Linked DNA regions of Homo sapiens. The protein of the gene in region 1 interacts with the protein of each later gene in a pairwise test. Each region holds a gene or a part of one and is shown in the gene's direction. Other genes may lie near its edges. The genes, in order: PPARA, ALB, TNP1 and FABP1.

Evidence for each region.
Region 2: the proteins of PPARA (region 1) and ALB interact in binary tests that used the Homo sapiens proteins (3 or more experiments, as listed by UniProt).
Region 3: the proteins of PPARA (region 1) and TNP1 interact in a two-hybrid assay, tested with the Homo sapiens proteins (one study listed by BioGRID).
Region 4: the proteins of PPARA (region 1) and FABP1 interact in a two-hybrid assay, tested with the Homo sapiens proteins (one study listed by BioGRID).

What each region holds. Positions count from the first base shown.
Region 1 is NC_000022.11:46,153,518-46,160,559, forward strand, and holds part of PPARA (peroxisome proliferator-activated receptor alpha), read left to right. Parts: intron 1-7,042. UniProt on the Homo sapiens protein: Ligand-activated transcription factor. Key regulator of lipid metabolism. Activated by the endogenous ligand 1-palmitoyl-2-oleoyl-sn-glycerol-3-phosphocholine (16:0/18:1-GPC). Activated by oleylethanolamide, a naturally occurring lipid that regulates satiety.
Region 2 is NC_000004.12:73,399,626-73,407,315, forward strand, and holds the start of ALB (albumin preproprotein), read left to right. Parts: upstream 1-4,661; 5' UTR 4,662-4,702; coding exon 4,703-4,781; intron 4,782-5,490; coding exon 5,491-5,548; intron 5,549-7,003; coding exon 7,004-7,136; intron 7,137-7,690. UniProt on the Homo sapiens protein: Binds water, Ca(2+), Na(+), K(+), fatty acids, hormones, bilirubin and drugs. Its main function is the regulation of the colloidal osmotic pressure of blood. Major zinc transporter in plasma, typically binds about 80% of all plasma zinc.
Region 3 is NC_000002.12:216,858,934-216,864,172, reverse strand, and holds TNP1 (spermatid nuclear transition protein 1), read left to right. Parts: upstream 1-4,108; 5' UTR 4,109-4,138; coding exon 4,139-4,277; intron 4,278-4,477; coding exon 4,478-4,506; 3' UTR 4,507-4,715; downstream 4,716-5,239. UniProt on the Homo sapiens protein: Plays a key role in the replacement of histones to protamine in the elongating spermatids of mammals.
Region 4 is NC_000002.12:88,125,063-88,131,907, reverse strand, and holds the start of FABP1 (fatty acid-binding protein, liver), read left to right. Parts: upstream 1-3,845; 5' UTR 3,846-3,890; coding exon 3,891-3,957; intron 3,958-5,559; coding exon 5,560-5,732; intron 5,733-6,845.

The sequences.
Region 1 (7,042 bases):
ATACTGCAGTGGTTTTCATTAGCTCCTGTTTGTCAAACTTATGAACAGAGTTTTAAAAATTGTGTATCAGCCGGGTGCGGTGGCTCACACCTGTAATCTTTGGGAGGCTGAGGTGGGCAGATGACAAGATCAGGAGTTTGAGACCAGCCTGGCCAATATGGTGAAACCCTGTCTCTACTAAAAATACAAAAATTAGCTGGGCATGGTGGCGGGTGCCTATGGTCCCAGCTACTCAGGAGGCTGAAGCAGGAGAATCTCTTGAACCCGGGAGGTGGAGGTTGCAGTGAGCTGAGATGGCACCACAGCACCCCAGCCTGGGTGACAGAGCAAGACTCCGTTTCCAAAAAAAAAAAATTGTATATGAGAGAGACAGAACTAGACAGAGAAGAAGGAGAAAATGTGTCTTCTTTATACACTATTTTGTAACTTGCTTTATCGAGTAGGTTATGAAAAATCTTCCTATGTGAAAAACATTTCTGCATCATTTGAAATGTCTATATAATATCCCATTGTGTTTAGATACAATAATATTTAGCCAATCTCTTTATGTGTATATATTTAATACAGTCATTCTATAAATATTGACTGAGTAGCTGCTGTGGGCTACTGTCCGCAGTGCTGAACAAGACAAGCATGAATCCATGAAACTGATTTTCATACCAGAATATAAAAAAGAAACTTAAAGATAATCCTCATCATGGTAAAAGATGAAGAACCTATTTTTGCCGGGACATCTTACTCTTTAGTAATTGGTGGCCAGTGTTCTTTTTCTTGCATGCTGTTTTGGAGAGTCTGTTTTTTAAATAAATATTTAAGTAGCCTGGGCGCAGTGGCTCACGCCTATGGTTTCAGCACTTTGTGAGGCCGAAGGGGATGGATTGCTTGAGCCCAGGGCTTCAAGACCAGCCTGGGCAACCTGGCGAAACCCTGCATCTACTAAAAATACAAAAATTAGCCAGGTATAGTGGCGTGTGCCTGTGGCCCCATCTACTTGGGAGGCTGAGGTGGGAGGATCCCTTGAGCCTGAGAAGTGGAGGTTGCAGTGACTGAGATGGCACCACTACACTCCAGCCTGGGTGACAGAGTGAGACCTGGTCTCAAAAAATAAATAAATATTTATGTAATCATCTTTAAGCAGTGTTTTTAATTTTATTTATTTATTTATTTATTTTTGAGACAGGGTCTCACTGTGTCACCTAGGCTAGAGCACAGCTGCATGATCACGGCCTATTGCAGCCTCGACCTCCCTGGGCTCAGGTGATCCTCCCACCTCAGCCTCCCAAGCAGCTAGGACCACAGGCACACGCCACCAGGCCTGACTCATTTTTGTATTTTTTGCAGAGACGGGGTCTTGCTATGTTGTTCAGACCTGTCTCAAACTCCTGGGCTCAAGCCATCCTCCTGCCTCGGCCTCCCATAGTGCTGGGACTAAGCCATGAACCACTGCACCCGGCATAAGTGGTCTTTCTTTAAAAAAAAAAAAAAAAAAAAAAAAAAAAAAAAAAAAAAACCACATTAATTAAAATATGTATTTGCTTATTATAAATATATTTGAAACATGCCAATTTTTCTTCTCTTTTTTTGCTCTATTGGTTTCTGTGTGTGGATGGATATATTTTTAATGGCAAATAGGATGAGTGTCTTTACTTCCAAGTAGTCAGTGTTTTTCTTTAATGTTTGTACTAATTTTGTCACATTGCAGTTAGAGGTTGTGGCCTGTCTAATTTCTGCTTTTTTGGAACTTGAGAGTCTCTGTTTTTATTTGTTTTTGGTAGCCTGGCATAGAGTCCATTTTTCTTTTCTTTTCTTTTTTTGAGACGGAGTTTAGCTCTTGTTGCCCAGACTGGCGTGCAGTGGCGCAATCTCAGCTCACTGCAACCTCCGCCTCCTGGGTTCAAGCGATTCTCCTGCCTCAGTCTCCCCAGTAGCTGGGATTACAGGTGCCCACCACCACACCTGGCTATTTTTTGTATTTTTAGTAGAGACGGGGTTTTGCCATGTTGGCCAGGCTGGTCTCGAACTCCTGATCTCAGGTGATCCACCCGCCTCGGCCTCCCAAAGTGCTGGGATTACAGGTGTGAGCCACTGCGCCCAGCTGTAGATACTTTTTAAAAAGGTATAGTTTCTGATTATGGGGTAGAAATGTGCTATGTCTGTCATTTCAGCCTTATGAATTGCCCAGAATAAGCTAGATCACCTTTAAGGCCATGTGGTTAGGGAAACTTGGGCACAGAATTTACATTTTCAACTTGGTGATAAGATGGGTTTAAGGTAAGAATCAAATAGGAGAAAGCCTTAGCTGTTCCAGCGGCCCATGTTTAAAAGAATGTGCTTCTTTTTCCAAGTATTTCTGCCGCTTGCATGCACTGAGCTTCTTTGGAAAGGAGCACCATGCAGGCATATTTTCCAGACAGGACCGGATTTGCTCGTTACTCAGAGGTGTGTGCATTCTTTGCTTTTAGGATATTTAATTAGCATCTTTTAATAGTGATATTACGGTGTCTTAAAAGTTTATGCATTTGAAAAGAAAAGAACTTACTCCTTGCCAGGTCTCAACCTATCATGGTTATCTTTGCAGCTGAGCTGCGTTGGTTTTGAGGCTCACATATGGTAAAAGTGGTTGGAAATCTGGAAATATTGCTGTGTATCTGCAAAGCAGCTTGATATAGTGGAAAAGGTATTAGGTCATTAATCATGAGATTTGGATTCTAGCCCCTTAGCTGCTGCCTGCCAGGCCTGGAGACCTTTGTTCTCTTCTTTAAACTGCTGCTTTCTCATCAGAAAATGAAGTTCCTCTCCATACCACCTCTCTGAAGGGCTGTGAAGCTCGAAGTGGCAGCTTAAAAAACTGCCCATCTCAGGAGGTGTCTTAAGAAGGAGGACATACCGCTGGCTCCTGCCTTTCTCACTTAGCCAGGTCTGATACCTGTGTTGTTTTCACTGTGGCCATTTTAGGATTTTTCAAAGGCTTTCAGAAAGCAACATGCTACCGTACCCCTTATACACCAAAACTGGTTTTCATTTTGGAATATAAAAGTGAGATTTCTCCACCAGTACAATAAAGTTGTTACAAGTGGTTCCTATGTGTTTGTTTTTGTTTTTGAGACAGAGTCTCACTCTGTCACCCAGGCTGCAGTGCAGTGGCACAATCTTGGCTCACTGCAACCTCCGCCTCCCGGGTTCAAGCAATTCTCCCACCTCAGCCTCCTAAGTAGCTGGGACTACAGGCACCCGCCACCACGCCCAGCTAATTTTTGTATTTTTAGTAGAGATGGAGTTTCACCATGTTGGCCAGGCTGGTTTTGAACTTCTGACCTCAGGTGATCCACCTGCTTCAGCCTCCCAAAGTCTTAGGATTACAGGCGTGAGCCACCACACCCGGCCTCCTGTGTGTTTTGAAGGTGATTGTGACCTCAGGTTTTGGCAGGGCTATACCTTGTGTTTGCTCTTACTCCAACTCCATGGCATACCTGGACCAGGCCTCTTCATCTTGAAGAGGGATCTGCTGAAATGCAGGCCCAGTGAATCTCCCCATGCCTGGACACAGTTCCGTCAAGCCAGGACCCGGTGCTGCCTGCACCCCTGTTTCTGTTAGTCTGACTGTCCTCGCTGAGTCTAACTCCTTGAGGGCAGAGAGGATGTCTTATTTATTTCTGCCCCGCTAGCCGTGTAAACTGAGTAGGTACTTGTAAATGTTCATTGAATAAGTACCTGATTAATAGAATTTAATTCAAGAAGAATGTATTGATGGGCCTGTGTGGTCACCACAGTACTGAGATGTAGGTGGGAGCTGGCTGAAGGGGGAGGCACCTAAACAGGAGTGCAGACAGCGGCACCTACGGATGATGGCCCGCTCCATCCCACCGCAGCGAAATTGTCCCAGACCTCTGCAGCTTCCCCCACACCTAGACTGAGAGAGAGCTCTTCTTCCTTCTGTAGGGAGCAGGTGTTTCCTCCAGATGTCCAATATGTACCTCCCATTACAGCGGTGTTAGGAAGGTGAGGGCTGCCGCTGAAAGGGTCCCCTTCATAATCATCACTAGATTTGGGGTATATTATGGATTAAATAGAATTTTTATAAGATGACCTGAGGATCTATTTAAATAAAATCCTCTTTCTTTCTGCAAGATCATGGATTTAAATTCAACACAACTGACTTCATAGGGAAGGGGTATGGTGAAAGGGAAGTGAGGTGGGCAGCACTGATATTTAACAAGGTGAGGGTCCTTCTCCTGCTCTGACTGTCACATTAAAATATTCCCAGGAGAAATTGGAGAAAACTCAGATGAAATATCGTCTGTGTTCCAGGAGGCAGGACTCATCGGAATGCTTTTATTTTGCTCCATTTTAAGAGATTTGCAGATAAAGAGGAGTGAAGATTTCTATTCAGATTTACTTGCTTTATATTTTAACTTATAGACCACAAGCCAACTTTCGAAAGAGCATCATTTTGAATAGTAAGAGTTAGGAAGGCAAATACAGAAGGACTAATGGCTTCCAAGATTATGAGCTTCATAGGAATGGTTTGAGATGAGGCTATAGTAAAGCAGAATATTGAAGTTCCCCCACCCCCTTTCATTTTTCATTTTTCATTTTTAAGAGTGAGCGAGGCCAGGCGTGGAGGCTCACACCTGTAATCCCAGCACTTTGGGAGGCCGAGGTGGGCAGATCACAAGGTCAGGAGTTTGAGACCAGCCTGGCCATCATGGTGAAACCCTGTCTCTACTAAATGTACAAAAATTAGCCAGGCTTGGTATCAGGTGCCTGTAATCCCAGCTACTCAGGAGGCTGAGGCAGGAAAATTGCTTGAACCCAGGAGTCGGAGGTTGCAGTGAGCTGAGATCGCACCACTGCACATCTCAGAAAAAAAAAGAGTGAGGCCCCAAGTTTTTTTGCATTTGTTTGTAACTGAATACGTCTGAAGTTATGTGATAACCACGCCAAGGTGACAAATTGCCAAGTTTCAGTAAAAGAGACCCAGTTATTTAGAGGTTGACACGTGGATATGTCCCTTTCTAAGAAGTTCGTGGTCAGCTTTACATGAGTATTTAAATGCGTGTTTATAATTCAGCAATATGGCTTGTAAAATACAGATTGCCAATCAAGTGACATGCAAATCTTGATGATCTGAAACAAGTTTTCTTCTGTTATCTATGGAAGAAATGGTAATAGGGATATTTAAGTGGGATGAATTTTTTGAAGCATTTTCAGGCAGTTTTCCACATGGAACAAAATAACATTGAGTGGGCTGCTAACATGAGGAACATATTGCCCTCTGCCTAGGATTATGAGTAAATTTGATAAATTCTAGACTGCAGTCTCATTTTAGCTCATTTTATGAGGCAGCTTGACAACTGGGATAGTGTCTCTTTTTTTTGTCGGGGGTGTTGAGGCTGGAGTCTCGCTCTGCTGCCCAGGCTGGAGTGCACTGGCGTGATCTCGGCTCACTGCAACCTCTGCCTCCGGGGTTCCAGTGGTTCTCCTACCTCAGCCTCCTGAGAAGCTGGGATTGTAGGCATGTGCCACCACGCCCGGCTAATTTTTGTATTTTTTAGTGGAGACGGGCTTTCACCATGTTGGCCAGGCTGGGTCTCAAACTCCTGACCTGAAGTGATCTGCCCGCCTCAGCCACCCTAAGTACTGGGATTACAGGCATGAGCCACCACACCTGGCTTCTGTTCTATCTGTGCATTGGGGATGAAATTAACACAAATGATGTTTAAAGAAAAAAATGCTCAGAGAAGTTAGAAATGTGCTTTAAATTGGAATCATCTCTTAGTATGTAAAAGTTTTTTGTAATAGAAACAAGCAGGGCAGTATTTGACCTGTTGACAGTGTCCTTGGACTTTACAATTTGTGAAGCAGCGTATTTTGCTTGAGTTGTACGATTGTCGTTTTTTTCCCCCCACTTTGACAACTGTTACAGAACCTGTCACCAGATACAGGCAAGGGAGGTTGGGCTTCCCATCTCTGCACGGCTTCCCTGTGATTCACAAGCAAGCAATCAGAAGTGCACAAAAGTTTAGAACGCGATTTTCATTCTCTTCTTTCCTTAGAAAAACTCGCTTTGTTAGCCTTTTCCAGAAAGGAAGGCACTCAATTGTTGTAATACTCAAATCATAAAAAGAAGCCTAGTCTAGTCTATTCAGCAAGGTGTTCTGAAAGAGGGAATTTTTTAAGTTCAATTATGCGAAGATCTTGAAGGTGGGACTCAAAGGAGAGGGCTATCCTGGGAAGAAGGCTTTGGAAAATGAGAGGCATGAAGGGGAGAGGGTATTTAAATGTGTTTGAAGCCAAGGATCCTTGAGAGAAAAAGCTGGCACTAACAGCGTTCAAAGAACTTGCGTGACAAGTGATGACTAATGACACTGAGGGTGGGTTGTGGGTGCCTAGTGAATTCCTCCGAAGCCAAGAGAGAGGTTTCCAGACCCAGGGAAGAAGGTGTGTACACCCAGAAGTAGTGTAGGGACAGAGATTCCGATCACAAGCTGTGACTGGAAGACGCCGACCACCACTGCAGCAGCCTGAAAACCACAGTCTTGAACCGCCAGCGAAGGGCTGGGAAGTGCGGATCCAGGGCTGGTGCACTGAACCCAGAGGAGCAGGCTCCCATTCCCAGCTAAGGGTGGCAGCTGGCGGGGATCTTTCCAGCAGAAAGCTGTAAGTGGAAGCTTTCAATTCAGAGCAGTAGCAATGCCTTCAAAGTCCCAGGCTTCACGTGGGAACAGAGAATGTGAAGAGTATTTAGCAGGATGCCAATATAAGAAATCTATATTGGTGTTCGTTTGTTTGTTTTTGAGATGGAGTCTCGCTCTGTCACCCAGGCCGGAGTGCAGTGGTGCGATCTCAGCTCACTGCAATCTCTGCCTCCTGGGTTCAAGCGATTCTCCTGCCTCAGCCTCCTACATAGCTGGTACTACAGGCACGCGCCACCATGCCTGGCTAAATTGTTGTATTTTTAGTAGAGATGGGGTTTCACCACGTTGGCCAGGCTGGTCTCAAACTCCCGGCCTCATGATCCGCCCTCTGCAGCCTCCCAAAG
Region 2 (7,690 bases), on another chromosome or scaffold:
GAAGACATCAAGAAGAAAAAATACCTTTTAATAAAAACATTCTAAACTCTATCCACTAAAATTTCAACATGAGACTATTTTAGCTATACAATCTTAGTTGTTTTATAGAAGATTGATAAAGTTCAATTTTATAACTTTAAACTTAAGTAACAAGTTTCTTGAATTTCATGTTTAAAATATAGAATATGAATAGATTCAAAGTGCATTCATTTCTGTTTAATTTCCATCTGTGGCTATCCTTATGAGACAGGATTAGTATTAATTTCAATTTATATGTTTATAGATTCTATTAGTTGTTAATTTATTAAGAATGGATAAACATGGATTGCAGACATTAACTATATTTTTCTTGCACTTGAAAAACTTGATAAAAAAATATGAGAAAGTCTCATTAATATAGTTTAAATAAGTTTAAATGAACTTTTTATTCTTTAAAAATATTAAGCTGAACTAGCTAGAGCGTAATACTTGAGGAGCAATTGTGAGGCTTAGGAATGAACAAGCTCTCAAACTTGAATCCTAATTGCCTAACTTGATATATTCTTTCCTACCACTCAGGTCCTTTTCTCATTTGATAAGGCTGTCACATTGAAAACATGGAATTGCAGAATGTTCAAGGTAGAAGGATCGTTAAAGATAATTTAGTCCAACTTGACCCATATGGCATAGAGATATATGCAGATCTGCATGTCCAGTTCTGCAGCTAGAAACTGACACTGAGCTGAATTAAACCACACGGAGAAGAACTGAGAAATTTAAAGTAAAAGGTTAGGAAATTCGAATGTATATATATTCCAGAGGCCCAGTGTAACATGAAGAAAGTCAAGGAGAGGGACTCTTTCATCATGGAAGATCTGGGGGCAGAGGGACTTAAAAGGTGGGACAAGCCAAAGATGGTGACCTAGGGTGGTTTTTATGATATAACCTTTTTTCTCCTCATTCCCTATGAAATCTTCAGCCAATTCCATATTTCTCACTAATTCAAGTGAATATCTGGGGGGATGGCTTATGGAGGGAAATAAGGGAGCAATTGTTTGGATTATATTCCAATTTTTTATTTGCATTAGAATACCTATATGTTTATACATTTTTATTTGCATTAGAAATACTTATATAAGTTTATACACTTTCATTCTAACTTTTTTTGAGGGAAATGTATCTCCATAAGTGAATAAGAAGTTAAATTACTGATTATGTTTCAATTGGTTAGTTTGATGCTTAACAGTCTTTCACTTTTCCACTCTTGCATATTTTGTAGAGAGTAATACAAGCTCTTCATGATAGGAAGGATCTGCATATGTTTATTTTATAGTAGAAAAATGGTAAGATTTTCCTGTCCCCAATTTTCTCTCCAAACAAATCCAAATTTCTTGTATTTTGGAATGACTCTGGGTAAAGTGGTTGTTTATAGAAAGTCTCTTATAAAATATTGAGGATATTATTAGATATTATTACATTTCCATGAATATGTTTCCCTTTATCTTTAAGAGAAGAAGAGTCAGAAATATAACCTATCAGAGTGGGAGATGGCATAAAAGCTGGACTAAATGGATTGCTAGATGGAGGGCAAACCTGGTGTGAATGACTCAGTGAGAAGCTTCGGGAGTCCTGAGGGTAGCAGAAGGGTGCGGATTTAAAGTTACTGTTAGAGTGGCTGGAAAATGGGAGACCGGTTCAGAGACATTTTATCTACTTAAAAACTGTGCCTTTTGTATCACGTCAAAGTGAATGCAAAACAAAGAACAAAAGGGTTAAAGGCTCAGGTTTAAATCCCAGGTATATGTACATTTCAATTGAGGTATTTTTTTTTTCTTTTCTAAATGATCAGTACACTTATTCTTTCTAAAGAAAATACTTTTCTTAACTACTCTCTATTTTTAAACTTCTCCCACAAAGATGAGAAAACATTTAAAAATCATTGGGGCTATTTTTCTGTTTACCGAGTAAAGAGAATCTCTAAACCATATTTATAACTCTTACTCTAAATATTTGCATTTACCCTCATGCCAGAGCCCGTTGATGACTGACTAAACAGAGTTTCAAAGTTTGAAGAACAGGAAATTTAGAAATGACTAACAATTATGTAGGTTTATTTCTCTCAGTATAGAATGTTCATATAGAATTAATGCCAGAGGTTTTCAGAGAAAAATGCAGAAATTTTTACTTTGCAAATCCAGAAGATGCAATTGTTCAAGTATTTCTTAAGAAACATTAATTTTAAGTATGCAGATATCATTGAGAATTAAATATTTTAATTTCTAAACTATTAATCTTTTAGTAGGATGCACATATGCAAAATGCCTCATTAGTACTGTAAGAAAAGATTCTTGGCCGGGCGCGGTGGCTCATGACTGTAATCCCAGCACTTTGGGAGGCCGAGGTGGGCGGATGACGAGGTCAGGAGATCGAGACCACCCTGGCACACGGTGAAACCCCGTCTCTACTAAAGATACAAAAAATTAGCCGGGCGTGATGGCGGGCGCCTGTAGTCCCAGCTACTCGGGAGGCTGAGGCAGAAGAATGGCGTGAACTCGGGAGGCGGAGCTTGCAAGTGAGCCGAGATAGTGCCACTGCACTCCAGTCTGGGCGAAAGAGCGAGACTCCATCTCAAAAAAAAAAAAAAAAAAAGAAAAGATTCTTTTAGGTTTCATCAATTTTGTTTTAAAGCTAGGGCTCTTCATTAGATATAGGAAAATCAATTCAAAGTTTCTATTCAGTCATGATGAATTTGAGATTTTTTTAGGTTTCTTTGTATTTAACAATATATTACATTATAATGTTGTGGTGAAAACTAAATGGACTAATATTATTCTTTTCATTTGTTAAATGAAAAAGTATGCACAAAGTATATGTGAGAGTGACAAAGGCCTGAATTTGTCAATTAGTAACAATTGTATTCAACAGTAAGGATTTTATGTTTGGGTAGGCCTTTCCCAGGGACTTCTACAAGGAAAAAGCTAGAGTTGGTTACTGACTTCTAATAAATAATGCCTACAATTTCTAGGAAGTTAAAAGTTGACATAATTTATCCAAGAAAGAATTATTTTCTTAACTTAGAATAGTTTCTTTTTTCTTTTCAGATGTAGGTTTTTCTGGCTTTAGAAAAAATGCTTGTTTTTCTTCAATGGAAAATAGGCACACTTGTTTTATGTCTGTTCATCTGTAGTCAGAAAGACAAGTCTGGTATTTCCTTTCAGGACTCCCTTGAGTCATTAAAAAAAATCTTCCTATCTATCTATGTATCTATCATCCATCTAGCTTTGATTTTTTCCTCTTCTGTGCTTTATTAGTTAATTAGTACCCATTTCTGAAGAAGAAATAACATAAGATTATAGAAAATAATTTCTTTCATTGTAAGACTGAATAGAAAAAATTTTCTTTCATTATAAGACTGAGTAGAAAAAATAATACTTTGTTAGTCTCTGTGCCTCTATGTGCCATGAGGAAATTTGACTACTGGTTTTGACTGACTGAGTTATTTAATTAAGTAAAATAACTGGCTTAGTACTAATTATTGTTCTGTAGTATCAGAGAAAGTTGTTCTTCCTACTGGTTGAGCTCAGTAGTTCTTCATATTCTGAGCAAAAGGGCAGAGGTAGGATAGCTTTTCTGAGGTAGAGATAAGAACCTTGGGTAGGGAAGGAAGATTTATGAAATATTTAAAAAATTATTCTTCCTTCGCTTTGTTTTTAGACATAATGTTAAATTTATTTTGAAATTTAAAGCAACATAAAAGAACATGTGATTTTTCTACTTATTGAAAGAGAGAAAGGAAAAAAATATGAAACAGGGATGGAAAGAATCCTATGCCTGGTGAAGGTCAAGGGTTCTCATAACCTACAGAGAATTTGGGGTCAGCCTGTCCTATTGTATATTATGGCAAAGATAATCATCATCTCATTTGGGTCCATTTTCCTCTCCATCTCTGCTTAACTGAAGATCCCATGAGATATACTCACACTGAATCTAAATAGCCTATCTCAGGGCTTGAATCACATGTGGGCCACAGCAGGAATGGGAACATGGAATTTCTAAGTCCTATCTTACTTGTTATTGTTGCTATGTCTTTTTCTTAGTTTGCATCTGAGGCAACATCAGCTTTTTCAGACAGAATGGCTTTGGAATAGTAAAAAAGACACAGAAGCCCTAAAATATGTATGTATGTATATGTGTGTGTGCATGCGTGAGTACTTGTGTGTAAATTTTTCATTATCTATAGGTAAAAGCACACTTGGAATTAGCAATAGATGCAATTTGGGACTTAACTCTTTCAGTATGTCTTATTTCTAAGCAAAGTATTTAGTTTGGTTAGTAATTACTAAACACTGAGAACTAAATTGCAAACACCAAGAACTAAAATGTTCAAGTGGGAAATTACAGTTAAATACCATGGTAATGAATAAAAGGTACAAATCGTTTAAACTCTTATGTAAAATTTGATAAGATGTTTTACACAACTTTAATACATTGACAAGGTCTTGTGGAGAAAACAGTTCCAGATGGTAAATATACACAAGGGATTTAGTCAAACAATTTTTTGGCAAGAATATTATGAATTTTGTAATCGGTTGGCAGCCAATGAAATACAAAGATGAGTCTAGTTAATAATCTACAATTATTGGTTAAAGAAGTATATTAGTGCTAATTTCCCTCCGTTTGTCCTAGCTTTTCTCTTCTGTCAACCCCACACGCCTTTGGCACAATGAAGTGGGTAACCTTTATTTCCCTTCTTTTTCTCTTTAGCTCGGCTTATTCCAGGGGTGTGTTTCGTCGAGATGCACGTAAGAAATCCATTTTTCTATTGTTCAACTTTTATTCTATTTTCCCAGTAAAATAAAGTTTTAGTAAACTCTGCATCTTTAAAGAATTATTTTGGCATTTATTTCTAAAATGGCATAGTATTTTGTATTTGTGAAGTCTTACAAGGTTATCTTATTAATAAAATTCAAACATCCTAGGTAAAAAAAAAAAAAGGTCAGAATTGTTTAGTGACTGTAATTTTCTTTTGCGCACTAAGGAAAGTGCAAAGTAACTTAGAGTGACTGAAACTTCACAGAATAGGGTTGAAGATTGAATTCATAACTATCCCAAAGACCTATCCATTGCACTATGCTTTATTTAAAAACCACAAAACCTGTGCTGTTGATCTCATAAATAGAACTTGTATTTATATTTATTTTCATTTTAGTCTGTCTTCTTGGTTGCTGTTGATAGACACTAAAAGAGTATTAGATATTATCTAAGTTTGAATATAAGGCTATAAATATTTAATAATTTTTAAAATAGTATTCTTGGTAATTGAATTATTCTTCTGTTTAAAGGCAGAAGAAATAATTGAACATCATCCTGAGTTTTTCTGTAGGAATCAGAGCCCAATATTTTGAAACAAATGCATAATCTAAGTCAAATGGAAAGAAATATAAAAAGTAACATTATTACTTCTTGTTTTCTTCAGTATTTAACAATCCTTTTTTTTCTTCCCTTGCCCAGACAAGAGTGAGGTTGCTCATCGGTTTAAAGATTTGGGAGAAGAAAATTTCAAAGCCTTGTAAGTTAAAATATTGATGAATCAAATTTAATGTTTCTAATAGTGTTGTTTATTATTCTAAAGTGCTTATATTTCCTTGTCATCAGGGTTCAGATTCTAAAACAGTGCTGCCTCGTAGAGTTTTCTGCGTTGAGGAAGATATTCTGTATCTGGGCTATCCAATAAGGTAGTCACTGGTCACATGGCTATTGAGTACTTCAAATATGACAAGTGCAACTGAGAAACAAAAACTTAAATTGTATTTAATTGTAGTTAATTTGAATGTATATAGTCACATGTGGCTAATGGCTACTGTATTGGACAGTACAGCTCTGGAACTTGCTTGGTGGAAAGGACTTTAATATAGGTTTCCTTTGGTGGCTTACCCACTAAATCTTCTTTACATAGCAAGCATTCCTGTGCTTAGTTGGGAATATTTAATTTTTTTTTTTTTTTAAGACAGGGTCTCGCTCTGTCGCCCAGGCTGGAGTGCAGTGGCGCAATCTCGGCTCACTGCAAACTCCGCCTCCCGGGTTCACGCCATTCTCCTGCCTCAGCCTCCCGAGTAGCTGGGACTACAGGCGCCCGCCATCACGCCCGGCTAATCTTTTGTATTTTTAGTAGAGATGGGGTTTCACCGTGTGCCAGGATGGTCTCAATCTCCTGACATCGTGATCTGCCCACCTCGGCCTCCCAAAGTGCTGGGATTACAGGAGTGAGCCACCGCGCCCGGCCTATTTAAATGTTTTTTAATCTAGTAAAAAATGAGAAAATTGTTTTTTTAAAAGTCTACCTAATCCTACAGGCTAATTAAAGACGTGTGTGGGGATCAGGTGCGGTGGTTCACACCTGTAATCCCAGCACTTTGGAAGGCTGATGCAGGAGGATTGCTTGAGCCCAGGAGTTCAAGACCAGCCTGGGCAAGTCTCTTTAAAAAAAACAAAACAAACAAACAAAAAAATTAGGCATGGTGGCACATGCCTGTAGTCCTAGCTACTTAGGAGGCTGACGTAGGAGGATCGTTTGGACCTGAGAGGTCAAGGCTACAGTGAGCCATGATTGTGCCACTGCACTCCAGCCTGGGTGACAGAGTGAGACTCTGTCTCAAAAAAGAAAAAGGAAATCTGTGGGGTTTGTTTTAGTTTTAAGTAATTCTAAGGACTTTAAAAATGCCTAGTCTTGACAATTAGATCTATTTGGCATACAATTTGCTTGCTTAATCTATGTGTGTGCATAGATCTACTGACACACGCATACATATAAACATTAGGGAACTACCATTCTCTTTGCGTAGGAAGCCACATATGCCTATCTAGGCCTCAGATCATACCTGATATGAATAGGCTTTCTGGATAATGGTGAAGAAGATGTATAAAAGATAGAACCTATACCCATACATGATTTGTTCTCTAGCGTAGCAACCTGTTACATATTAAAGTTTTATTATACTACATTTTTCTACATCCTTTGTTTCAGGGTGTTGATTGCCTTTGCTCAGTATCTTCAGCAGTGTCCATTTGAAGATCATGTAAAATTAGTGAATGAAGTAACTGAATTTGCAAAAACATGTGTTGCTGATGAGTCAGCTGAAAATTGTGACAAATCACTTGTAAGTACATTCTAATTGTGGAGATTCTTTCTTCTGTTTGAAGTAATCCCAAGCATTTCAAAGGAATTTTTTTTAAGTTTTCTCAATTATTATTAAGTGTCCTGATTTGTAAGAAACACTAAAAAGTTGCTCATAGACTGATAAGCCATTGTTTCTTTTGTGATAGAGATGCTTTAGCTATGTCCACAGTTTTAAAATCATTTCTTTATTGAGACCAAACACAACAGTCATGGTGTATTTAAATGGCAATTTGTCATTTATAAACACCTCTTTTTAAAATTTGAGGTTTGGTTTCTTTTTGTAGAGGCTAATAGGGATATGATAGCATGTATTTATTTATTTATTTATCTTATTTTATTATAGTAAGAACCCTTAACATGAGATCTACCCTGTTATATTTTTAAGTGTACAATCCATTATTGTTAACTACGGGTACACTGTTGTATAGCTTACTCATCTTGCTGTATTAAAACTTTGTGCCCATTGATTAGTAACCCCTCGTTTCGTCCTCCCCCAGCCACTGGCAACCAGCATTATACTCTTTGATTCTATGA
Region 3 (5,239 bases), on another chromosome or scaffold:
GTGCATGTGAACTGGGTAAAAGGTCCCCACTTCCCAGCCGAGGTCAGCATCTGGAGAGACTTAGATTTCAGAGAGGGATTCAGACTGAGTCATCGACAGGTATAAGGACTGTCAGCAACTTTTCCATGTTCCCTCTTCATAAGCCCCAAGTCTCAGCCTGCTGGGAAGATCCGGCCCTATGAAGGCATCCACTGGACTCCCCGGGAAAATTAATGGAGTGAGTTTGAATTGGAGAAGTGACATGGAATCTAACTAGAGATCTGACTTCCAAAACAGTGACACCCTAAGGCTACCCCTCCTAGCCTAGGAAAGGGACCAGTGAGAGCACTGGCCTCCAAGCCCTTTCCTGCACTGTAACCCTAGCTACCCGTCTAGGAGATACAGACACCATCCTGTCCATTTACCTTTCTCCAGGCAAGAACTCACTGAGCCCCAAGAAAAGAAAAGGCTGATAGTGTCTCTTCTCAAAAGGCCAGGAATTTAGCTCTCTCTCTTTCTGTGCCAAAAATGTTCAGAACATAGTCGTTTCCTTTCATTAAGGGAAAAAAAAGCTGAGTCCCACCAGGGAAGCTAAGGTGTAAAGGAAACAGGTTTATGGGGCTGTCCCTGTTAGTCCTATGCTGAGTTATTTGAAGTCACTCATATGTCCTCTCTGTGCAAAGATAGCAGAAAAAAACAAAATGGTGAGACAGGGAGCAGACTGGATTAACAGATGATTCTCAAGGAAGGGCCTCATCCTGGACCTGCTAAAGGTTAGAAGTAGCTCACTAGGCTCTATCTAAATTGCTGCTAGCTTGAGCAACACTGGGGCAGAAATGGGAAGAGAAACAGAGACAGGCAGCAGAGACCAACGCTCAGCCCTGCTCCATCCTCACTCCAGGAGGTCCGATACAGGAGCCAACCCAAACACCCCCCACACCCCACTCTTGAGTGGCCTGTGAATCGCCTTCCCCGTCCCCCACTGGGTTTTCTGCTGCTTAAGTTTCTCAGCATGGGTGTCTGGAACCAGAACTGCTCCTCAACTCTAGGCAAAGGGGACTTTTTTGTTTGTTTCTTCATCAGTTCCCGAGTCTGGCTGCCTTCTTCCCTGTGATCTCAGCTTCTCCTTGGCAGAGCAGATCTTTTGGGGGTGGGAGGGATTGGGGAGAGAAATAGTATCCAGCCTTCAGGACCATCCAGAAAAATGTCTCTCAAACCAAAGAGGCCAGTTCCTCTGTAAACATTTTAGCCAATGGTTTCAGGCATGAGAGGTGGACACAGAGCACCAGAGGACCTGTTGTGAGGACAATGTCTTCTCTCTTCCCTGCCTTGAAATGGCCCCACTTATGCAAAGTCACTGTGATTGTGTTGAACTGTCTGTCCTCATAATATACCAAAGCAGCTAGACTGAACAAATATTTACTGACCACCTAGTGTGGGCCATGCTAGTACCTGCGGAAAATGCAGTAGAAATAAAAGGTACAGTCCCTAACGAGAAGGAGGCTATCGCCAAAGTCAGATCATTTCAGAGATCACCTAGCCCAATCTGCTTATTTTTAGAATAAGGGAGCTAACGACCAGAGAAGTCCAGTCAGGACCAGAATGAAGACACACCACCTCCTGTTGAAACCAGTCTAACACACATGGCTGGCAATGCAGGCATAAAACATGATTTCACACAATTAGGGTTGGTTGTCTAGACTTTAAAGCCAATATTATACAGACAATAAACTTTGAAGAAGTTTCAAAGGACAGTGAAAATTTGATAAGTTGGGAAGTCTTCCTTAGAGATGTGGGGCAAAATGGGAAGGAACAGGATAGTTAGAAAAATAAAAGAAGGACTTTTTATTCATTGACCAAATGTATTTCACAAATACTTACTGAGCTTCTATTCTGTGGCAGGACTGATGAACTCCCAGGGAATATTCAGTAGTGAGCCCAATTTCTCAATTCCTGCTTTCACAGAGGTCCCTGCTTTCATGGGGGCATGTTTGTAGGAGAAACAACCAGCCTTGAGTGGACGCAGAAGGTCTGGACTACCAACAAGCAAGCCAGCAGCCTGTTTTATAGAACTTCTTCATGTGAATAAAAGTCACCAACAAGTCACCAATAGAAGGTCTCCAGAGAGACCTGCCCAGAAGCAGGAAAATGGAAAGTGTCACATATGGTGGCTATACAAGGAATCTGGGTTTCAAAACTCAATTTGCCATCTATAGATATCAGAAAACCAGGGAGTGGGACTTGAACTACTTTCGCTCTTCTATTCAACCAACTTTTGCTAAGGATCTCCTGCATACAAGATGCTCAGTTCTTGAATGAGGGTAATGACAATGGAGAGAGGAGAGACAAATGGAAGAAATAGCAAACAAGTTCTATAGAAATCCGAATGAGGCGGGCACAGTGGCTCACGTCTGTAATCCCAGCACTCTGGGAGGCCAAGGTGGGCAGATCACCTGAGATCAGGAGTTCAAGACTAGCCTGGCCAACATGGCGAAACGCTGTCTGTACTAAAAATACAAAAATTAGCTAGGCATGGTGGCACACGCCTGTAATCCCAGCTACTCAGAAGGCTGAGGCAGGAGAATTGCTGGAACACAGGAGGCAGATGTTGCAGTGAACCAAGATTGTGCCACTGCACTCCAGCCTGAGCAAAAGAGAAGACTCGGTCTCAAAAAAAAAAAAAGAAAGAAACATTTTCAAAAGCAAAGCATTTACTATGAGGTGTAATGGAGGAAAAAGGAAAGGCTGGATGACTTATACACCAATAATCATTCAATATATCTATTTGTAAGTGTCAAAGGCACTTCAAAGCTGGTATGTCTTATACCAAGTACATGATCATCACTCTCCCCATGTCTGGCCTTTATCCCCATGAATGGCACCAGCATCCAGATAACTGCATTATACAGAAACAAAAGCCACACCCTTGACACCATCTGCTTTCACCTCCCAAATTCAATCCGTCACCAAGCCTTGGTCTCTTGTCTACTTTAGATCTCAATCAACACCTTTCCTGGCCAGACCTAAACCATCATCAAATCTTTCTCTCTGCTGAACCATTGATGTTGACAGTAGCATCTCCCTTTACACAGCTCCTCCAGTCAATACATCACCCACTTGGCACCCTCTAATCTCACATGCCATCCTCTTAACATTTTTAAAGGCTTCCCAATGTACTTGATCATGGTTTGATCTCTGTCTCTCCCTCCAGCCTCATCCTGTACCATGTAGGGAGTTTCCCTCTGCCCTTCTCCAGCCAAAATGACTCCGTAAGTACTTACTCACTGATTTATGTAGACATCTGATGAATGGCTTTCTCCCCAGTGGGCTGAGAGTTCCATGAGCACAGTATCTACGTGTGTTTATCCTCCACTAATTTTCTACCACCTAAATGTATGGCATATGCTATGTGATCAATATCTGTGACTGAATTTTAAAAAATGATTAGGTTAATTGTTCTGAACCAGAGCCATTTTTTCCCTCACTTCCCCAGCCTCCCAAAGAAACAGGTGGCAATGTTTGGGAATATTTTGGGTTGTCATAGCTGCCAGGCTTCTCTGGTGTCCAGTGGGTAATGGCCAGGGATGTTGCCAAACATCCTAGGGTGCACAAGACAGCCCACTGAAAGTTACCCTGCCCATTGTGTCAACAGTGCCAAGACTGAGAAATCCTGACCTAGATGAAAAAGAAGGAATATTTCTATTTTGATCATATTGAATTGGGTTCTGTAGAGTCAAGTCCTTACAGAAATAAATTTATTATCTCTGGATGCTGTGAGAGACTTAAACAGTCATGCATACACACACACTCAATGACTGTTACATTTCCTACAGGCAGGAGAAGCATATCTGAATGGTCTCTTGTACTCATCCAATGCCTGGCACAGGGCTGGGATTCAGTTTCTCAATAACACCTCTCTGGGAAAGCCTCACTTAACATAAAAAGGACCTCAAAACTGAGGGCAGCCCTTGAGCTGCACGAAAAGGACCACCTTATTTCACAAATGTGACCAAAGTGCAGCAAAGGTGAGTGACAGCACAGTAGAGCCCCGCCCACCTGCTGAGCCATGCCCCTTCCCTGTCACAATGGCCAAGGCCTTAAATACCCAGACTCCTGGCCCCCGGGCCTTGCAAAGCCCCTCATTTTGGCAGAACTTACCATGTCGACCAGCCGCAAATTAAAGAGTCATGGCATGAGGAGGAGCAAGAGCCGATCTCCTCACAAGGGAGTCAAGAGAGGTGGCAGCAAAAGAAAATACCGTAAGGGCAACCTGAAAAGTAGGAAACGGGGCGATGACGGTGAGTGAGGGATGGGGAGGAGATTGCCAAACTTAGGCACACATTGCTGCCAGGCCCTCCCTCTTGGAGGCAGCTCTCACAGGACCCTGAAATCTTGGCCTGAGATTATTTCCAATAACTAAATGCAGATTTGAGCAACAAGAGTCTTGATGGGAATGTTCTAATTCGTGTCTCTGTTGCAAACCTGTCCTTTCCCACAGCCAATCGCAATTACCGCTCCCACTTGTGAGCCCCCAGCGGGCTCTGCCCTGGTGCGCTTCACACAGCACCAAGCAGCAACAAGAACAGCAGAAGGGGAACTGCCAAGGAGACCTGATGTTAGATCAAAGCCAGAGAGGAGCCTATGGAATGTGGATCAAATGCCAGTTGTGACGAAATGAGGAATGTATATGTTGGCTGTTTTTCCCCAACATCTCAATAAAACTTTGAAAGCAGAAATGTTTACTTTGATCTTTTGGTTGGAAAGACTTGAGTTCCTGAGCTAGGTGGGTTTGGGGAAGAATTGGCCAGTATGAAACCATTAAATGTGACTTGGAAAATATCAAAAGTAATTTGTCCTCCAATTCCCTCCCACCACCGTGGGAGGTGGTCCTACTCTGGCCACACACTATTGCCGTATTTGTCTTCATCCCAGTGTGCTGTCTCTCTCCTCAACATGGAAAGGGAGAAGAGATAAAAAAGGGAGAAATGCATTCATTAGCATTAACCAAAGGATTCAAGCTGTTTTTGTTAGAGCTTAAACCAAAGGATGCAAGCTGTTTTCGTCAGAGCTTATAGCATAGAGGTGTTGAAAGCTAAACTAAATCTAAAGACTTGGCCCGGAGATAGAGATCACCTGGAGGAGCTCTTAGAAGCTCTTAATTCATTGATCATATGGGCAGTATTAGCAGGCTAAGAGATGGGAACACCTTCTGAACAGAGACCAACATGTTCTTTGTAAAGGATCCTATTGGTAACAGTGG
Region 4 (6,845 bases), on another chromosome or scaffold:
ACCTGCACGCTGCCCGTCTGAGTAGGGATGTGAGAAGAGGGGATGTCTAGTGTGGAGTGAGCAGGGCCAGAATCTTTGGACACTCCAAAGCTGTGCCCACAGAGTGGGAGTCTCTTTTTTTCTTTCTTGAAAGCCACTTGAACTTTGTCATTGCAATTAAGCTTATCTCTTCTTGTGTTTGCTCAGCTAGTGGGTGGAAGATGTCATTACCCTCTCCTAACTTTATGGAAAACTCATGAGTATTAGTTTTTGAAATGGCTACTGATCTCTGTGCCCTCAAGATTCACACACACACAAAAAAAAAAGACAAAGGGAAGTCATCGGGGGTTGCCTAAGAATGGCCATATCTCAGACCTGGGGGAGAGGGGGAGTCCTGGCCTGGCGTTGATCAGCTCAATTTACTTGTCAGGCTGCCCATCTGCCAGGGAAACTGTCAAGGCTTCACTGGTTGTGCCAGGCCCTTGACCAACCTCTGGGTCAGCTGCATTCCCAATGCTGTTCTGAGTCTGCAGGCGTTGCCTGGACAGGGTAGGCAGGAAGTGCAGGGTGAGGCAGAGTGGTCCACAAGGAGACAGCTCATGGGTCCTGCTGTTCCTCAGACACCAGGAAAGGTGCACCTGGTCCCTACTTCACCTGAGGCCTCCGGGGTTGGTGCTGACTTGCTCTATGGAGAAGCTTTCATGACGCTCCTTCCCACTCCCCTCCGTAGATCCCAGAAAGCAGCAGTGTGGGGCATGATACTTGACATTTGCGATCAAGGGGAGAGGGCCTAGTTGTGGAATGTATAAGCCAGACATCCCTTTATCTGAGCGGGATGTCAGGCAGGCAGCTGGGGGCATGAGATAACATGGGCACTTGGAGCAGATTCTCCCAAACGAAGCAACTGATGGGTGTGATGGGAGTTGGGCATGGTAATGACTCTATCACGGTCATTTTCCTCGGTGATTATTTCATTGATTTTAGGCTGCAAAACTCCTAAGCTCCCCATCTAAGCAAGTGTTTACGTATTCCTTCCTTGACAAATGCTAGAAGAGCTCTTTAGGTAGGTAGTGAATAGGATCTCAGGTATAGAGCTGAATTTAGCCCTGGGCTGAACCTTCACATGGTCATTAGACAGACATATGCCAGCTATTGGTGCAGGCTTTAGGTGTCACATGTAACCCAGATGGGATCTAAATAAAATGACCTTGAATTCCTCCAAAGCCCTTCCTAGGATGTCTAGGGACCTGGGGAACCCTGTAGGGAATGCATCCCCACAGACACTCCACTTCCTGGTACTGCTTCTGCATGTGCCATCTCAGCCTCATCACATCCATCCAGAAATAAAGCTCAGCCTTGCATCATTTTCCACTTGCTCACATATTGATTCAGGCACTATATTTTACTGAAGCTTTTGAAATAGTTGGGGTGGAAATTAAAGAAAGATGGATGGGGATTCACTGCAGCAAATGAGCAGCTTCAAAGCCAATGCCATCCTGGAGCTCTTCTTGCCTTGCGGTCACTGGGGGTATCTCAGTGACCCATCACCCCATGCCCTCTTGGTGGCCTCTCTCCTGCCTGCCTGCCACATTCCTCTCTCTCCTTTCTGCAGTCTGGGGGAGGGACAGGAAGACACACCCAGCCTCTCCTGGTCTCCTGCATGAGGGAGCTGCCCTTCTCTTCACCAGCTTGGCTCTCGCTGACACACGGGTCTGAGGTCTGGGGTCTCACACACTCTGTCTCCCAGGCAGCTAATCCAGTCATTTACACACACACACACACACACACACACACACACACACACACACTAGGAATTCTCATGCCAGTTCTTAAGACAATGGATTTTTTACTTCCTTACATATACAAAAATGAAAAATCAGCATCCCATCTGGAGACCAGGGTCTAATATGGACCCCTTTAGTACAATAGACATGTTAAAAGATGTATAATCAAAGCTCAGAGCAAGATGAGAGAAGGACTGTGGGTGTGCCCATACTTCTTTGAGCCACCTCGCCCCTTCCTGCCCGCTGTTCAGGTAGTCGTGGTGATTATAAAAAGCCATAAGTTCTCAGCATGCAGGCCCACTTCGCTTGCTGCAGGGACAGCCCCAATTCATGGCCTGGGAGGCACCTTGTGTCCTAGACACTGTCAGAGGAGGGCCAAGCAGGGAGGGCCAGAGCACCCCTCTGTGCTGGAGGGAAAGGTCTGCTGGTGCCAGAATCTGCATGGCAGGACACTCCATTAGTGAGTGTTCTCTGCCCACACTGCTCCAAAGGTGAGGACCTCCCTGTGGCAGGGTACACCTTAACACCACCTGTCAGGGATGCTGTAGAAGGACCCTGGCACTGGGACTGTGGGTGGAGGAGAGAACTTCTGAAGTGCTTTGCTGGATCAACATGTCCAAATGCTGGAGACCACGGAGGGCAGAGAGAGTGGCATGGACGCCCCCGATGTGTCCACTTGGCCCTGTGGCTGGAACTGTGGCTTGAGGAGAAGGAAGGAAAAAGGATGGAAAGGTAGACTGGAGTTGCCTTTTGAGGGCTGGCAGCCCTGCTAGAAGTTTAGGCAATGGGAGTCATTTTCCAAGCCAAAAATTAGAACTCATGATAGGGACATGGAAGTGTTATTGGGGGTGGCCATCATGACCCGTCACGTGACACTAGGCCATCCAGGACCTGTGGCCTCTGAAGTGATGGGAACCACTGAGGCTCATGCCTGGAGCAGTGGCCCGACTCAGCCTATGCTTCAGGATGATCTGTCTAACCACAGAGTAGAGGAGGCCCAGAGGATGAAGGCTGGAGGCTGCAGGTGAAAAGGTTGACGCCAAAGTCCAGACAAAGAAGGGAGAGAATCTAGGGGTGAGGGGGTGCTTGTAAGGAGCTGCCTCAGAGGCAGGAACTGGGACGTGCACCCATTGGGCACCACGCCTCTCTGTGCTTCACAACAAACTGGCACATCCCAAGGCCACTGGAAGCCCTGCTGGGCCATCTCCCCAAGGCCAGTGCTGTACACATAACCCTACAAGACCAGTTTCCTACACATAACCCTACAAGACCAGTTTCCTACACATAACCCCAGATCCCTTGTCCTGTCTTCTCAGTGGGGCTGGAGCAAGTCAGCAGGTGCCACTTTCTCCTGCCTTGTCTCTGCCTAATAAAATGCGTCTCAATGTTTTACACCTGCCATTTAGCATGGACTGCTTTAACACCTCAAAAAGGCCTGTGGAGGAGCCTATAATCATCAAGGAGGAATTCCCAGAATACAAAATAACACTAGCGGCTGATAACAACTCTAAAAAATAAGTTTGTGTAATAATGGGGGTGAGAAGAGATCATAAGGTTATGTAAATAAGGTGAGGTTTTGAGTTCAAAGGAATTCTCTGGTATTTTTCTGTGTGTGTACACATGCACCCACACACTTGTGTGTATATGTGTACAGACATATATAAACACATGCATATAATGTGTATATATGCATTACATATATGCACATTCATACATCTTTATGTACAAAATACATATATGTATATATAAACACCGATGTACAAACACATACGCACACATCTATATACATACACATGTGTGTGCACATATACACATACCTGCATATACACACATTTCGTGGGGTGCGGAGAGTCACTTAAAGGCTGCAGGGCCATAAGGCTTCCTGCTTGACTGATATTCATTAATGTTTGCTGAATTACAGCAAACCTTTGCTGTGCCCATCCTGTTCTTTATCATTGACCATTGCTCTCAGGAGTTAATGTTTGAACCTGGCCATAAAGGAATCAACAGCTGCTGACCTCTGGCCGCTATTCGAAGGGAAGGGAGCCCCCTATAAAACAGCCTACAGTGGACAGTCTGGTCGGCAGAGCCGCAGGTCAGTCGTGAAGAGGGAGCTCTATTGCCACCATGAGTTTCTCCGGCAAGTACCAACTGCAGAGCCAGGAAAACTTTGAAGCCTTCATGAAGGCAATCGGTGAGTGCTGGACTGAAAGGCAAAGCTGTGGGTCACATCAGTGAGGGTCTAGCTCTACCAGCAGTGGCTATTTAGGGTCCAAATGTTGAGATGGGGGGAGAGATTCAGGCTATATACACAAACTAGGGGGCATTTTACTGACTTCTGGAGTTATTTGCAGCAAGTCCTCACTGCACAAGGCCACCCCATAGGCAAGTGGAAAGAGCACTGAACTAGGGTGTGGTCTGGATTGATGGCCATGTCATTGGCACTTCGTTGTGTGATCCTATTCCTGCATTTATTCATTCTTCAAACAAACAGTGATTCAAGGCCAACCACACACTGAGCACTGTGCTGGATAGATACCAGGGAGACAGATGATAAAGGCAATAAGGCATTTTCTTATCAGGGAAGAGAAGAGAAGAAATAAAGGTAATAAGGCATTCCCTCAGGTGTATGGAGCGCTGACTGTGCCAGGCGACTGTGCTGACCATGGGATATGCAATACCCCATCTATTCCTTGCCAAAAAACTAAGCTGGGTACCATTATTTTCCCACTTTACAGTTAATGCAACTGAAGCCCAGAAAGGTTTAGTAATCACAAGCAAGGTCATGCAAGTAGGAAGTGTTTAAGTTAGGATTGGAAGCAGGCACTGGTTCTCAGAGACCCTGCTTTAACCCCTGTGCCTCCTAGGGTCATGTACAGGAGGATGTGGCTCACAGAGAGCATGGGGGGATGGCTCAGTGGAGGTAAAGAGAAGGCTCAGGCTGAGCTTTGGAAGACAGGTGTCTAGGGAACTGGGGGCAGGGAGCATGCTCCAGGCAGAGGGAGCCCTATAAGCAAAGGGTGTGGCATGGCAAGGGAGGGTGCCAAGAATGAGAAGGGTGCTGAAGACAGCAGGGGCAGGGAGAGAAGGACCTTCAGTGCTGCCAGAGAAGGATCTTCTGCAGGCAAGCCATACCACCTCTGTGTCTCTCATCTCTCCCTCATGCAACAGGACCCTCTGTGCTCACTGTCCACCCACAAAATTTTTGTGAACCTCAATTTGTATAACAGCATAGACAAGTTCTGAAACTGGTAAAGCTCTATCCCAGGGCAAGGGATTGCTGGTATGTCTTCCTCCAGAGCCTTGACTGCAGAGGTGGACACAGGCTTGCCTGGCACAGTGCCGCTTTGTGTATGTTGGCCTGGCATGATTATCAGCAGCTCCCCTTTCACTTGCAGGAGGGACCTAGCTTGGAAGATCAACTCTCTGGTCACCAGGGGTATGGGGAATGAAATGCTCACACTCCAAGAGCAAAGTCATCAAAGGAGGAGGGAATGAGGAAGGAGAGTGAGCAAGAACCAGGGTGCTTACAAGAGGAACGGTTCTTCAGGCCAGAAGAGTGTCCTTTTTATAAATTGACTGGCAAGATAGCAGCAGGCCAGGCCAGGTCACTGTCCCTTCCTTTCTGAGGCCACAGCCGATGCTGCTGACAAGCCCCCAGTGAGTTTCTGTGGCCCCTTGGGAGACACAGTGCCCTTCTCTGTCCCTCCATGTCATGTCGTTTCTCTCACCTACCTACCACGGTCATGAAACTCCCACCTCTGCCCATATCTAAACCTCAGACGGTTTCCACCAGGTCTGCCGGAAGAGCTCATCCAGAAGGGGAAGGATATCAAGGGGGTGTCGGAAATCGTGCAGAATGGGAAGCACTTCAAGTTCACCATCACCGCTGGGTCCAAAGTGATCCAAAACGAATTCACGGTGGGGGAGGAATGTGAGCTGGAGACAATGACAGGGGAGAAAGTCAAGGTAGGAGGGCATCCCTTCTGCTGTCAGAACTTTCCTTGGAACCTGGCCCTGGGACCTCATTCCTCAAGGCTCAAACCTCACAATTCCACCCACAGATACCATCTCTGAACCCACCTCCCATGTGGGAGAAGCAGAGAGACAAAGGCAGCTCTTAGGGAAGAATCTTATAGAGAAGCTGCTCTCCTCTTCCCAGGGACTGTCTGGGGGGTGTTCCAGCCCCTAAAGTCTGAGCTCTCCCATATGGAGGATATGGGAGAACCAGGCATACAGCAGGATTCTAAGTCTCAGGTTCTCCCAGGCCCAGTGCTCCTAGCACTAAGAGTCCTCTAAGCAGGGCCCAGGAGTGGGGCAAGTGGGAGTTTGTGAAAAACCCTTAACTGAGCCCAAAGTCAACTGGCCTTCACTGAACCTAGAGCTGGTGGTGATAGGGAGAGACTTCTTGAAGGAGGTGCTAGCAATACCAGAATACCAGGGCCCCAGACAGGTGCTCAGACCCTGCCTTCAGGGGTGGTCACAAAGTCTCTGGCTTCAGCCACCCCATCTGTAAAATAAGAACAGTCAACCTCCCTAGACTGAAGGCAGTGCAGGGCAGCATCACTTCTGCTGGGCACAACTCATGGTGTGCAATGACAGCTGGGGTGTGGGCTGTGTGAGTGGTTGGCAGATGGTGGCAGGGGGATCCTGGCAATGGGGGTGCCCGTCTCCTCCTCCCTCTGAAACACTCCATGCTCTAGCAGCCCTCTTCTCTCCTCCCCGTGGACAGCTCTGTTCATTGGGCTGGGCGTGTTTGCTTTTTATCTCTTCTGGTCACTCTTTATTTCTGCCTCTCCAATTAGAACATTACAGGTCAGGATGATTTTAGGAGGATAATATTCTTGATGTGCTCATGGTCAAGGGATTTAACTATGGGCCTTTTCCAAATTTTCTTTTTGGAGGCAAAATGTTTAATGTTGCCCAGGGTCTTTGGCTCCCTGCTGGGTTCCTGTCATCTCTTCCAGGATGTATAAGGGCTTGGAAGGAGGCCACAATATGAAAAGTTAACGCTCTGGGAAGAATAATACATACCTGGTTGGGCGGGTGGCTCATGCCTACAATCCCAGCACTTTGGGAGGC